Regions from separate parts of the Homo sapiens genome. Here all the other regions are linked to region 1. Evidence: fine-mapped expression QTL. A gene starts in region 1. Each other region holds a variant in brackets. All regions are shown on one strand. Distances are between the middles of the regions.

What was found. PIP is the estimated chance that this variant, and not a neighbour inherited with it, causes the effect.
Region 2: its variant is the best candidate, but not a certain one, in a credible set for the expression of CASP8 in prefrontal cortex (BrainSeq, PIP 0.71).
Region 3: its variant is the best candidate, but not a certain one, in a credible set for the expression of CASP8 in whole blood (GTEx, PIP 0.58).

Annotation. Positions count from the first base shown.
Region 1 is chr2:201,258,805-201,263,045 of GRCh38, reverse strand. CASP8 (caspase 8) reads right to left here and starts at 2,510. Exons shown (of 9, transcript NM_001372051.1): 1 at 2,433-2,510. RefSeq lists an enhancer at 4,206-4,241.
Region 2 is chr2:201,319,801-201,324,041 of GRCh38, reverse strand. The region is part of intron 9 of FLACC1 (flagellum associated containing coiled-coil domains 1); the gene reads left to right. Among named protein-coding and RNA genes, the nearest start is that of FLACC1, 35 kb to the left of the region's middle. RefSeq lists enhancers at 3,081-3,580, 3,581-4,082. The variant G/T (reference allele first, on the strand shown) is at 1,779.
Region 3 is chr2:201,284,625-201,288,865 of GRCh38, reverse strand. CASP8 (caspase 8) reads right to left here. Exons shown (of 9, transcript NM_001372051.1): 8 at 3,549-4,050; 9 at 1,157-2,407. The coding sequence ends at 2,272. It overlaps FLACC1 (flagellum associated containing coiled-coil domains 1), which reads left to right. Exons shown (of 15, transcript NM_001127391.3): 15 at 85-595. The coding sequence ends at 211. Among named protein-coding and RNA genes, the nearest start is that of CASP8, 26 kb to the right of the region's middle. RefSeq lists a cis regulatory region at 364 and an enhancer at 292-436. The variant C/G (reference allele first, on the strand shown) is at 2,150.

The sequences.
Region 1 (4,241 bases):
AACAACGTGACAATGCTTTTTAAGTGGTTTCCCCATCAAATCATAACTGACATTTAGAAGGGAAAATGCTAACGTGGCTTCTTCTCTGGCCTAGGTGTTCCAGGATACACTGTCAGATGATAGTCAGCCTTTTCTGTTTTTTGTTTTTTGCTTAAGTTACACATCCCTCTAGTCATAGTACCTAGAAAACAGTCACTTGCAAAGGATTTATGACACCATTAACAACGGGCCATCCAGCACTGTAAGGGGAGAGACATCGTGTGGCAGTTCTTGTTTTATGGGACCTAGATTTTCTGCACTAGCTTATGGGCTAGAAACTTTGTTAAGCTAGTATTTTTTAAACAATGTACTTGTATTTTTGGTTCCTAAAAACAGTAAAAGTAACACTTGTTTCATAGAGAAAGTACAGAGAAGTATAAAAAGAAAATAAAAATTACTTAAAAACTTGCCATTTGGAAGTAATTCTTTGGTCACATTTTGTGGCCTTTTCCCAATTTTTTTTCCACATGTATATATAACATATGTAAATTTGAATATGTTGCCATGTAATACATATATTTTATATAATCTCTGCTAAATAGTAAATGTATATAAGTCTATTTGTATTACATAAGTATATTTATTATTTTATATATTTATGCCCCAAAGTATTTAAATATAAATATGTGTTTATAATAATCATATAAATAAATGATATATAAATGTTTGTAATCTATATATCCATATAAACATAAAAATATTTTTTAACCTCATTTCACTAAAAGCCTCTGAAGAAACTACTATTACTGTCCCCATTTTTCTGTTGTGAAAAATCACGGCTTGGAAATAAGCTAGTAAGAGAGAGAGCCACAGCCAGATTTAAGTGTCTCACTCAAGGGCTTCAGTGACAGATCACAAAGATTTAGACGTCATTCTACTTGCAGCTGGAAGGCAGTGAAAGAATCTCATGAAGAAAAACATAAAATCATAACTTTTTTAGAGAACAACATTTCAAAAAATTTTATAATAACAAAGCCACAAAAACAGAAGTTCTTAACAAATCCACTATAGGAGAGGGGGTTAGAGCCTCACAAAGGAAGTGCTAGAATCTAGGCCCCAGCATCTCATTCCAGAGTCCCATTCTACCACTGTATTACATGTCACAATTAAACTGTAAATACATTCCATCTCATCACAATCATTCCAGTAATATTCTAGCAGCATCCTAGCTCTTGCAGTGATAACTAAAAAGCAAAACATGCATTTGCCATCGGAAGCAGAAACCTGCATCTCATCCGAAGCTTGAGAGAACCTGAAAGCCACTCGCTCTCAGGCCCAAACCCCTAACCGGCAGGTAGTATTGCCACTCCCTCCAATCCAGGCTGGCTGCCTCAGACTGCGGGCTGCCCCGGAACCTGACAGACATCCATTCTGCACGCACATGATGTCCATAACAGGGCGCTGCAGCCACGGCATTCAAACAACCCAGCAAAGGTGTCCAAACCTCAGCAAAACATATAATCCCATCATTTTCAAACAGAATGAAACTTGCAACTTCACCTGTAAATTCTTAACCCCACAAGTGCAGGTCTCTGATTGTGTCTATCTAGTCTTCCCATTATATTGTTTTTTGAACTGTTCTGTATCTTTTTAATTTTTTTTTTTTTTTTTTTTTGAGACGGAGTTTCGCTCTTGTTGCCCAGGCTGGAGTGCAGTGGCACGATCTCGGCTCACCACAACTTCCACCTCCCAGGTTCAAGCGATTCTCCTGCCTCAGCCTCCCGAGTAGCTGGGATTACAGGCATGCGCCATCATGCCCGGCTAATTTTGTATTTTTAGTAGAGACGGGGTTTCTTCATGTTGGTCAAGCTGGTCTCAAACTCCCGACCTCAGGTGAACCACCGCCTCGACCTCCCAAAGTGCTGGGATGACAGGCGAGAGCCACCACGCCCAGTCTTTTTTAATTTCTTTAAAAAATAAATAATTGAATTAGTAGGACCACATGGGTGTGTTTGTGTGTATGTGTGTGTGCGTTTATGTTGGCAAGTGTGTATGTTGGTGGGTATGTGTGTTGGTGGGAGGATAGCTGTAGCAGCAAAGTCAGTAGAGATTTAAATTTTGGCTTCTATTATTTCACAAGTTTGACTGGGATCAGGATGAGGCCTTTATACAAGTAGTTAAACTTGCAGCATTTCAGAAGCTCCTAGGACTTCATCAGTCTAAGCTAGAATGGCCTTCAGATCTGGAAACTGCACGGCCCTCGGCAAGGCTCTCAGAGGGACTGCTACCTCTTACACTAACTTCATGGTTTCCCCATCCACACTCACATACGAGGATCACCTCCATGGCCCCAGGGCCACCCGATCTCACTCTCAGCAGCCTAGAAAACTCCAGAATCAAAGGCCTTCCTCCCAAAAGGCCCCTCTGACCTTAACAAAGAGGCAAATCCTTACCTTACTCTCACGATGGTAGCACCTTCGTCACAGGCCTATCCACTACCATCTGAGCATCTAAGACAAGAGCAAACGTCTAATGAAGGACGGAAGGGCACAGCCAGCCAGCTCTACTTCCTGTTTCGAAACTCCTGAGTCACAAACACTAGAGGGGAAAGAGCGCTTACCACTTGCCCCTGAGTGAGCAGAGTGCCTTCTAAAGCTTCTAAAGCTGCAGGAAAAAGGCCTGGTGGTCCAGGAGACCGCACGCAGGGCACCTGGCCACCTGAGCACTGGCCCCTGGCTGTGACTTTGGATGGGCCATTTTACCTTTGGGGCCTCATTTCCACATTCCAAAACAAGGACGTTGGACTGGATTGTAACTAAGAACACTTTCATTTCATATTTAGGATTTAAAGATTTTTCTGGGTTCATCATTAAGACTTTAATTTTTTCATTCAATGAATCTTGATGGAGCACCTCAGAGAGGTCTTGAGATTGGACACTGCAGAGCCCTCTCATCTTGGTTCTCAGGGTGGCTGTGAACTTTCAGAGCTAAAGCCCCTGGTTTAGCCAAGGAGCATCTCTGTGGCCCCAAGGTCACCAGATTCCACCCTCAGCAGCCTAAAATACTCTAAAATTAAAAAAAAAAAAAAACTCTAAAAAGAAAAAACTCTAAAATGAAAAACCTCTAAAAAGAAAAAACTCTGAAATAAAAAAATTCTAAAATGAAAAAAATCTAAAAAGAAAAAACTCTAAAATGCAAAAACTCTTTGGTAAGATGGTAAGTCCATCTTACCAAAGGTGATCCTTGTATATGAGTGTAGCTGAGGAAACCATGAAGTTAGCTGAAAGCTGGGTTTACCATCTTATCAAAGAAGCAAATCCTGGGGCCCTCACCATGTTGGGCTCTAGGGATATACCAGTAAACAAAATATTGCCTTCATACTGAGAGTTAGATGAAATGTTTTCTGATATTAAAAGTAGGAAAAGAAAATCAAACACCTCTCTTCTTTGAAACTGCCTTTTGTCTTTCCCCAAATAGAATATAAGCTTTCAGAGGGTAGGGACTCATAGCTGAGAAGACTGAACGAAGTATCTGAAAAGGACTCTTCACCAGAGAGGGCTAGGTCAAGATGGCCTCATAATATCAATGCCTGGATGGCCACCGTGGCTCATGCATGTAATCCTAGCACTTTGAGAGGCCAAGGTGGGAGGATCCCTTGAGCATAGGAGTTTGAGACCAGCCTGGGCAACAAAATGAGACACCATCTCTATGAAGAAAAATTTTTTAATTAGCCAGGTGTGGTAGCACGCGCCTGTGGTCCCAGCTAATCTGAAGGCTGAGATGGGAAAATTGCTTGATCCCAGGATGTTGAGGCTGCAGTGAGCCGTGATTGCACCACTGCACTGCAGCCTGGGTGACAGAGCAAGACTTTGTCTCAAAAAATAAATAAATAAAAAAGAAATAGAAACAGAATGAGCAAAATAAAATACCAATAGTATTAATATGCAATAATAATTGCTAACTCGTGTAGTAAGTGATGTATGCGTATTATCTCCTTCAAGCCTCACAGTCACCTCTGGAGGCATTATTAATCATTTAATGATGAGATAACAGAGGCACAGAGGAATTACTTGCCTGAGATCGCATAGTTAAAAAACAGTGTACACATACAAAAGAAAAATACATTTTGCAAAGATACAGATAAATTCACGAATCCACATCAAAACATTAGAGAACTGTCTTTGGGGAACAAGAGAGAGGGCAGGAGGGCAAGGGTGGGGGTGGAGAGATAAAAGGAAACCCTTCAGACACGGAAGAGGGGG
Region 2 (4,241 bases), 61 kb before region 1:
GAGCGTTTAGGCCATTTACATTCAACATTAATATTGAGATGTGAAGTACTCTTCTCTTCATCATGTTAATTGTTATGTATATAGCTTTTCTTTTTTCATTCTGTTATTGCTTTATAGACTTCATGAGTTTTAAGCTTTCAAGAGATTCTATTTTGGTGCGTATTTGGCTTTTGTTTCAATGTTTAAAACTCCTTTTAGCCCACCTTTCTTTCTTTTCTTTCCTTCCTTCCTTCCTTACTTTTTTTTTTTTTTTTTTTGATAGAGTCTGGCTCTGTTGCCCAGGCTGGAGTGCAATGTTGCAATCTTGGCTCACTGCAAACTCTGTCTCCTGGGTTCAAGAGATTCTCATGCCTCAGCCTCCCAAGTAGCTGAGATTACAAGCATGCACAATCACACCTGGCTAATTTTTGTATTTTTTAGTAAAGACAGGGTTTTGCCATGTGGCCAGGCTGGTAGCATTTCTTGTAGTTTGGTTTGCTAGTGACAAATTCCCTCAGCATTTGTTTATCTGAAAATGACTTTTATTTCTCCTTCAATTACAAAACCTAGCTTTACAGGATACAGAATTCTTGGCTGACAGTTTTTTTCTGTTTAAGGAGATTGAAGATAAGACCCCAATACCTTCTGGCTTGTAAGGTTTCTGCTGAGAAGTCTGCTGTTATTCAGATAGGTTTTCCTTTATAGCTTACCTGATGCTTTTGTCTTACTGCTCTTAGAATTATTTCCTTCATGTTGAGTTTAGATAGCCTGATGACTATATGCCTTGGTGAAGATCTTTTTGCAATTAATTTCCCAGGAGTTCTTTGAGCTTCTTGGATTTGGATATCTAGATCTCTAGCCACGCCAGAAAGGTTTTCCTCAATTATTCCCTGAAATAAGTTTTCCAGACTTGTTATTTTCTCTTCTTCCTCTGGAACACCAGTTATTCTTAGGTTTGGCTGTTTAACATAATCCCATATTTCTTGAAGACTTTGTTCATTTCTTTTTATTCTTTTTTCTTTATTTTTGTCTGATTGGGTTAGTTTAAAAACCTTGTCTTCAAGCTCTGAAATTCTTTCTTCTACTTGTTCTAGTCTATTGTTAAAGCTTTCTGCTGCATTTTGTATTCCCTAAGTGTGTCTTTCATTTCTAGAAATTCTTATTGTTTTTTCTTGATAATATCTATATCTCTAGAAAATTTTTCATTCATATCCTGAAATGCTTTTTAAATTTATAATAGTTTTCATCTTTCTCTGAAATCTCCTTGAGTAGCTTAATAATTGACCTTCTGAATTCCTTATCTGGTATTTTAAAGAGTTCGTCCTACTTTGGATCCATTGCTGGAGAGCTAGTGTTATCTTTTGAGGGTGTTATAGAACCCTGTTTTTTCATATTACCAGAGTTCCTTTTCTGGTTCCTCCTCATTTGGGTAGATTATTTCTTCTAATTATCCTTGAATTGATGTTTGATTTGACTGTGTTTCTTTTTGTGTTTGTTTTTTAATTTCTTTTTTCCACTTAAGGATGTGACTTTAATGCTTATCATATTATGGCCTAATTTGGTTTTTGGTGCTTTCAGGGGTGAAGACTCTGTAATAGTTCCTTGGTTATAGAGAGTTTTTTTATGTGGCTTTCTTAGATGCTGGTTGTAGTAGCAATGTGCTTGGTATATTAGCAAGATCACTGTCTCCTATGGGGCTGTAATGATAAGAGGTCTCTTAAAGCTTATCTCATTCCCCTGTGGCATGCCCTTTTTTATTTACGCATTTTCGTCCAGTTTTTTTTTTCTTTTTTTTTTTT[G/T]AGGCTGAATCTCACTCTGTTGCCCAGGCTGGAGTGCAGTGTCATGATCTCACTGCAATCTCCGCCTCCTGGGTTCAAGTGATTCTTGTGCCTCAGCCTCCCAAGTAGCTGGGATTACAGGTGCCTGCCACCACACCCAACTAATTTTTGTATTTTTAGTAGAGACAGGGTTTCACCATATTGGCCGGGCTGGTCTCGAACCCCTGACCTCAAGTGATCCACCCGCCTCAGCCTCCCAAAGTTTTGGGATTACAGGCATGAGCCACTGCACCCGGCCTTTTCTCCAGTGTTTTATTTACTAGTTTGATGGTTCCAGCTTCAGGCCAGTAGGGGAGGTGTCCCTGGGTAGGAATCAGCTGTGGCTAAAGCAGGTGGGTAAATGCAATACCCAGTGATGGGCAGAGGTCTCAGCCTTGACAGAGGTGGCTGGAGGAGTGAGTTGCAATGAGGTCTTACCTGGGGTAAGGGTTGGAGCCACCTCAGCTCCCCTGCCAGGTTAGCAGGAAAGTTATCCCTCTCAAACACACTCCTGTTTCAGTGCTCCAGCTTTTCATCTCCAGACAGCCACCTCTTTTCATCTGCAGGAATTTTGATGTTCCAAATAGAGAAAAATTGTGAACGTCTCTCATACAAGCTTGAACCTAGAGGGTGCCCCTCCTATGGGGATGCAGTCACCCTGATGTCTTCCAGAAAGACTGTCTATAGTTGCACTCACACCAAGCTCCAATGGGAGAAGCTCCAACTGTGCCTGCAGTGGTAGACAATGGGTGGGGGGGTTGTCTGTCTGTTGGGTTAGAGCTGAAGACTTTTCCTGCTGAGCCCAGCACTGCAACTGTGCCTCTGCTGAAAGAAACTTCCCACTAGCAGAAAGATCTGGTTCTTAAGTCCTGCTGTCTGGATTATTTTCTCCCACAGGGTGTTCTCTTGATGTGGTGCACTCCCTGTTCCCCTAGGATCAGGGGGATCCCACTCCTAAGGGAACAGGGTCTCTGGGTCTAGCTGTCCAGTGAAGGTACCACACCCCAGGCTGGTGCTAGGGAATATCTGCAAGGGATCCAGTGATGTGACCTCTCTTCAAGTCTCCCAACAGTGGGTAGCAGCACCAGTTCTAATGGGCGTGGCAGGGTAATAGACTCTGTGAGAGTCCTTGGTTATTGATAGCCTTAGTGTGTTGGCTTTCTCGAACACTGGTTTTAGTAGTAATGAACTGGTCATGTGGACAAACTCAGGACCTCCTGGTTAGCCAGAATGGTGCAGGCAGTGGTGATAGCTGAGATTACACAGCCATCTTCTTCCTAGGTGCGTTGTTATTCTACCAGGAGATGCTGTAATGGACTGTGTTGGTTGGCCTCCAGCCAAGAGGTGATGCTTACAAAAGGGAACCAGCTGCAATAGTAGCAATAGGACTTTTGCTTGCTTTATGTTGTCCAGAGGGGTTACTCTGGTTTCTCAGGCAATGAGTGGGGCTATATAGCCCCCAAGAGTTTCTGTCCTTTGTGTTAAACTACCAGGGCAGGTGACGGGGCAAAGCAGGGTGAGGGTTGGTTCAGGTGGGCTTGCGCTCTGAGTCTCCCTGTGCAGGGCAAGCAGCAGCCCCTGTGGAAGCCAGGGGATGGGAGTGGTTCTCAGGCCACTGGGTTGATGTTCCAAAAGGCAGTGTTGCTGGCTTTGCCACACAGAAGGGTTTGTGCAGAGTGAGGAGAAGCAGGTGGCTGTGAGCCCCACACAGATCCCATGCACTTGGCAAGACAGATGCACTCCCACAGTGTTCCACTGGCAGCAGCAAGCTAAGTTCCAGTTAGCCTGCACTCAGAACTTGCAACTGTCCCGAGTCATATACGTTCCCTGCAGAGATAGCAATCACGGCTTTCAGGCCAAGCCCCTCCCTGTCCACTGCAAAGCCAGGCACCCAGTTCCTGCACTGGCAGCTCCTGCACTCATGGCTGCAGCCCACTTTTCACTCTCCTCCACCCTGGCCCTGGCCAAGGGAGTTCATCCGCACCTAAGGTTATATCATGAAACCCAGTTGGAGGCTTCTTTCAACCTGCGACCACTGCCTGAACTTTTTGGCTGTCCTCCACAGGGTTCCCCGTGAGGAACAGTAAGAAATGGCTTCCCTCTCTCCATGCTGAAATCTGGGAGTGTGTGCAAGAATCTTCCTGCCACTGCTCCCACTTTTATATTCCACATCCCTCCCCAAGTCAGTTCCTGTGCTGCATAGGGTTAGGGCTTTCTCCCATGGTCTGGACTTTCAGGGTCCACAGTGGGGGTGTGTATTCCAGGAGTAATGTAGGGTGAGTCCCCCTTCTCACACTCTGGGAACTCACAGCCCTTTGCCTGATTCACAGTGTAACCTGCAGCCTCCTGCTTCCTTCAAAGGGTCTGTAGATTCCTTTGGTTTTCCTGTTCAGTTTCTGCATTGCTCCTTGAAAAAAGTTCAGTGTGAATCTCTACAACTATTTT
Region 3 (4,241 bases), 26 kb before region 1:
CATTTCTCTCCCTGCACTCCAAATATCCTATACCCTTTCTAGCTTTTGAGTTGACATTGATACATCTTTCCTTTCTTTTTACAGGCAAAAGATAATTTCTAAGAATGAAGAAATTTGTGAAGGATGTTCTGGGAGATTGGCCTCTATTACTGTTTCTAAGGATGATTCTGACACTGTGCAAGATGGTAGCAAGAAAGGACAAGAATCATAAACAAAAAGTTGCTCTGCATTGTTGAAGATGGTTGGCACACCATTTCTGTAGGCCCAGGAAACTCCTGGGAGGGTTTTCTTGAGAAAATGCATATAATGAGTTTAGTTCTTGGGTTGCTCTGACTCTCTGAATGTCTGAAAATGTTTGAATTCGCATCTGAATTTCACAGCTTATCACGGACTCTTCACTGAAAAATGATGCTCTCCATACTGGGAGCTGAGCTTTCTCTGAGTTTTGTACTATTTTTCTTCTACCTTGACGTATTTCGTTAGAAAGAAACTGATTTGAAGGCCTTCTTCATATTGAACTTTTACTATATTTGGGAGGTGTACCTTTGTCCCCTGGGGCATTTAGGTAGCAAAAAAAGATGATGTGTTGATTTTACTCTAAAATATTTTTCTCTCACACCCATGCCCCCTACTTCCCTACCTCTCAATCATGTTCCCTAACCTATGACTTAGGAAGGGTTTCTGATGATTCTTACCACCTCCTCTGGACCATCACCAGAATTCAGACACCCACAGTGCAGGCAACATAAATAAGTGAAGTGGGCTAGACATAAGGAAAACAATTGCCCAAGCACAGTGATAAGTGGCAACCAACAGCAGCCTCAGTAGAGGGGCTTGGGCAGGGCTGGGGCACAGCGGATGGGGAAGAGTGACCCACAGAGCACTGTCCCATCTGAAGAAGGTGCTTCTCAGACCTTTGCCATGCAAAAGCATGAGGTCAATATTGTCAGATAGTATGATTTTTTAAAAGAAGTTATTCTGGTTTTTATGTGATATCTCCTAATTTTTAAACATTGACAACAAATTTTAAAAATACAACTGTGTGTGCCGATCATGGGAGACTCAAGTAGAACATGTCTGTAGTCCAGATGTTTTCCACCTGTGAGATGTCATTGGCAGAAACCAAAACCAAACACAAAAAATCTCCAAGGAGCAATAAGATCAAATTATATTTTATTCTATTAAAAAATGTTTTTGAAAAAAGATACTTAAATTTTAAAGATAACTTAATTCCTAATGATTTAAAATAATCCAAGCAGAGATGAAAGAGCAAATGCAAATGCATAAAAAGACCCCAGAGCATTGTTAGCAAAAAGCAAATATAGTTAGCCAAGCATATATATATCATAAAAGCAATAAGAAGGCATAAAGCAAGTTTGGGGAGAGCTTATTTAAAACTTGTAAAAATCATTTGAATTTTTAAAAGATTTCAAACAAATTTTGTTTTATTAAAAAAAAAATTTTTTTTGAGACGGGGTCTTGTTCTGTCACCCAAGCTTGAGTGCAGCGGTGTGAACATGGCTCACTGCAGCCTTGACCTCTTGGGTTCAAGCAATCCTCCCACCTCAACCTCCCAAAGTGCTGGGATTATAGACATGAGCCACCATACGTGGCTACTTTCTAATTTTTTTAATGTGGTAGTGTGGAATTTAGCTTTGAAAGAGAATTAAAGTTAATAGAATATTAACAGTGGGCTTATAGTTGATAGATAACAATCTGAATCATAAGCCCTCTATATTCATAGCTGGATTTTGTACGTGTCTGGTATTTATTGCCACCAGCTAAAAACATTCCCAAAGCCTTAAGCATAAGAGAAAGGAGACAGTGTTATTGTTGTTAATATCCTATTTAACTTTAGCTCTTATAAAAAAGTGCAAAACAATTAATAAAGTAGAAAATCTAGAAAATTAGTAAATAAACATAGTGTTATATCTAAATAGTACCATCGGCCAGGCGCGGTGGCTCACGCCTGTAATCCCAGCACTTTGGGAGGCCGAGGTGGGTGGATCACGAGGTCAGGAGATCAAGACCACCCTGGCTAACACAGTGAAACCCTGTCTCTACTAAAAATATTTTTAAAAAATTAGCCAGGTGTGGTGGCGGGCCCCTGTAGTCCCAGCTACTCGGGAGGCTGAGGCAGGAGAATGGC[C/G]TGAACCCGGGAGGCGGAGCTTGCGGTGAGCCGAGATCACGCCACTGCACTCCAGCCTGGGCGACAGAGCGAGATTCTGTCTCAAAAAAACAAAACAAAACAAAACAAACAAAATAGCACCATCAATCAGAAGGGAAGACAAGTTTTTTTCTTAGTGTGAAAGTAGGCTGAGGCATCTGTTTCCCCATGTTTTTCTTGTCATCCTTGTTGCTTACTTCATAGTTCACTTCAGTCAGGATGGTGAGAATATCATCGCCTCTGAAATACATCACATAATATTGTGACTGTCTGTGGGGGAAAGCAACTGATGAACTGTCTCCTCTGCTGTGCTCAGAGATAGTTCTGTAGTTCTTTCTCTCAAAATATCAGTCATTTGAAACAATAAGGTGCGAAACCAAGACCTACCCCAGCTTTCCTGGTAAATGGGTTGTCTCAGAGCTTAATAACTTACTTTTGGTTTATTCAGGAACTCTTTTGACCATCAGAAACCTCGGTGTCAGTATTAGAGTTGGTTTCTTTCTCTCCTGACCTGTGTGTCTCTCACTCTTCTCCACGTTACTTGGCTCCCCATTGCTTCAATGCCCCCCAATACTCTCTGCCTCGAATTGACATCGCATCTGCGGATTCATCTTTGATGCAATTAAACTTAAGGCAAGTGAAAGTATAACGTCTCCTGCAGCTACTCCCACCTTCTTCTCACCAGGATCTCTTAGCATTTTTGTTAGGCAACCTCTTCTTCTACCTTGGTAGCTAGCCGCGGAAACCTTGCAGGATTCATGATCTAAGTTACGAAATCTAAGTTAGATTCATGATCTAAGTTACGGGAAATTCTCACTCTTCATATACTCAAAACATGAAATACAGGGCTAGAAGGAACCTGCTATTTATCTCCCATAATGCACCAAGAGGTTTTGAGGATGGTTTGCTATTATAGAACTTTTGACAGAGTTGGAGGATGTTTAAACATTGAATTGGGTTACTGCCTTCTTGGAAGATTTCCAAAACTAGTTGAATTGGCTCAGTCATGTTTTGGCCTAAAGACAGAGAGCTGGAGTATATGACTTTCCTATCCTTTCCTGCTCTGTGATACCCTGATTGTCCTTTGAGGTGCTGAATAAAGGAATAAAGCATCTCAGCTTTTCCATCTATAAACTAAGGATGTTAACACTTGCCACTCTCCCACTTTGTAACTGACCTGGGAAATGCAGCTATGTGATCTACAGCTAGACATTTAGAGTTGAACGGAAACCACTCCCCTTGGACAGTTCTCTGACCTGTTAATGTGATCTAAATCACATAGCACTTTCTAATAGGCTCTGAATATGAGTAGATAGTAGTGTGATGGAGTAGGGGGGGAAGGTAGTGTAACAGTGAGGAGGGCTGAGTAGGCAAAACTTACCGAGGACATCGCTCTCTCAGGCTCTGGCAAAGTGACTGGATGTACCAGGTTCCCTCTGCAGGGTTTCGGTAGGAAACACAGTTATTCACAGTGGCCATCCCCAGCAGAAAGTCAGCCTCATCCGGGATATATCTCGTTTGAGGTGATGATAAATCCATTTCTAAATAGGGTTGCTCCTCTGAATCAGTCTCAACAGGTATACCTTTCTGGTAGTTATCCCCCTGACAAGCCTGAATAAAAAACACTTTGGGTTTTCCAGCAAGGGAAGGGCACTTCAAACCAGTGAACTGAGATGTCAGCTCATAGATGGGGGCCTCCTGTCCATCAGTGCCATAGATGATGCCCTTGTCTCCATGGGAGAGGATACAGCAGATGAAGCAGTCCATGTTACTGTGGTCCATGAGTTGGTAGATTTTCAAAATCTCATAGATTTGCTCTACTGTGCAGTCATCGTGGGGCTTGATCTCAAAATGAAGCTCTTCAAAGGTCGTGGTCAAAGCCCCTGAAAAGTGAAATTTGAACAGTCACGTTATACCACAGTAATTCACAGACCACAGCTGGAGAGCACAGTGGGCATAACATTGATAGATAAGAATTTGACCCCTCTCCCTCTCCCTCTCCCCGTCTCCCTCTCCCTCTCCCTCTCCCCGTCTCCCTCTCCCTCTCATGCCGAGCCAAAGCTGGACGGTACTG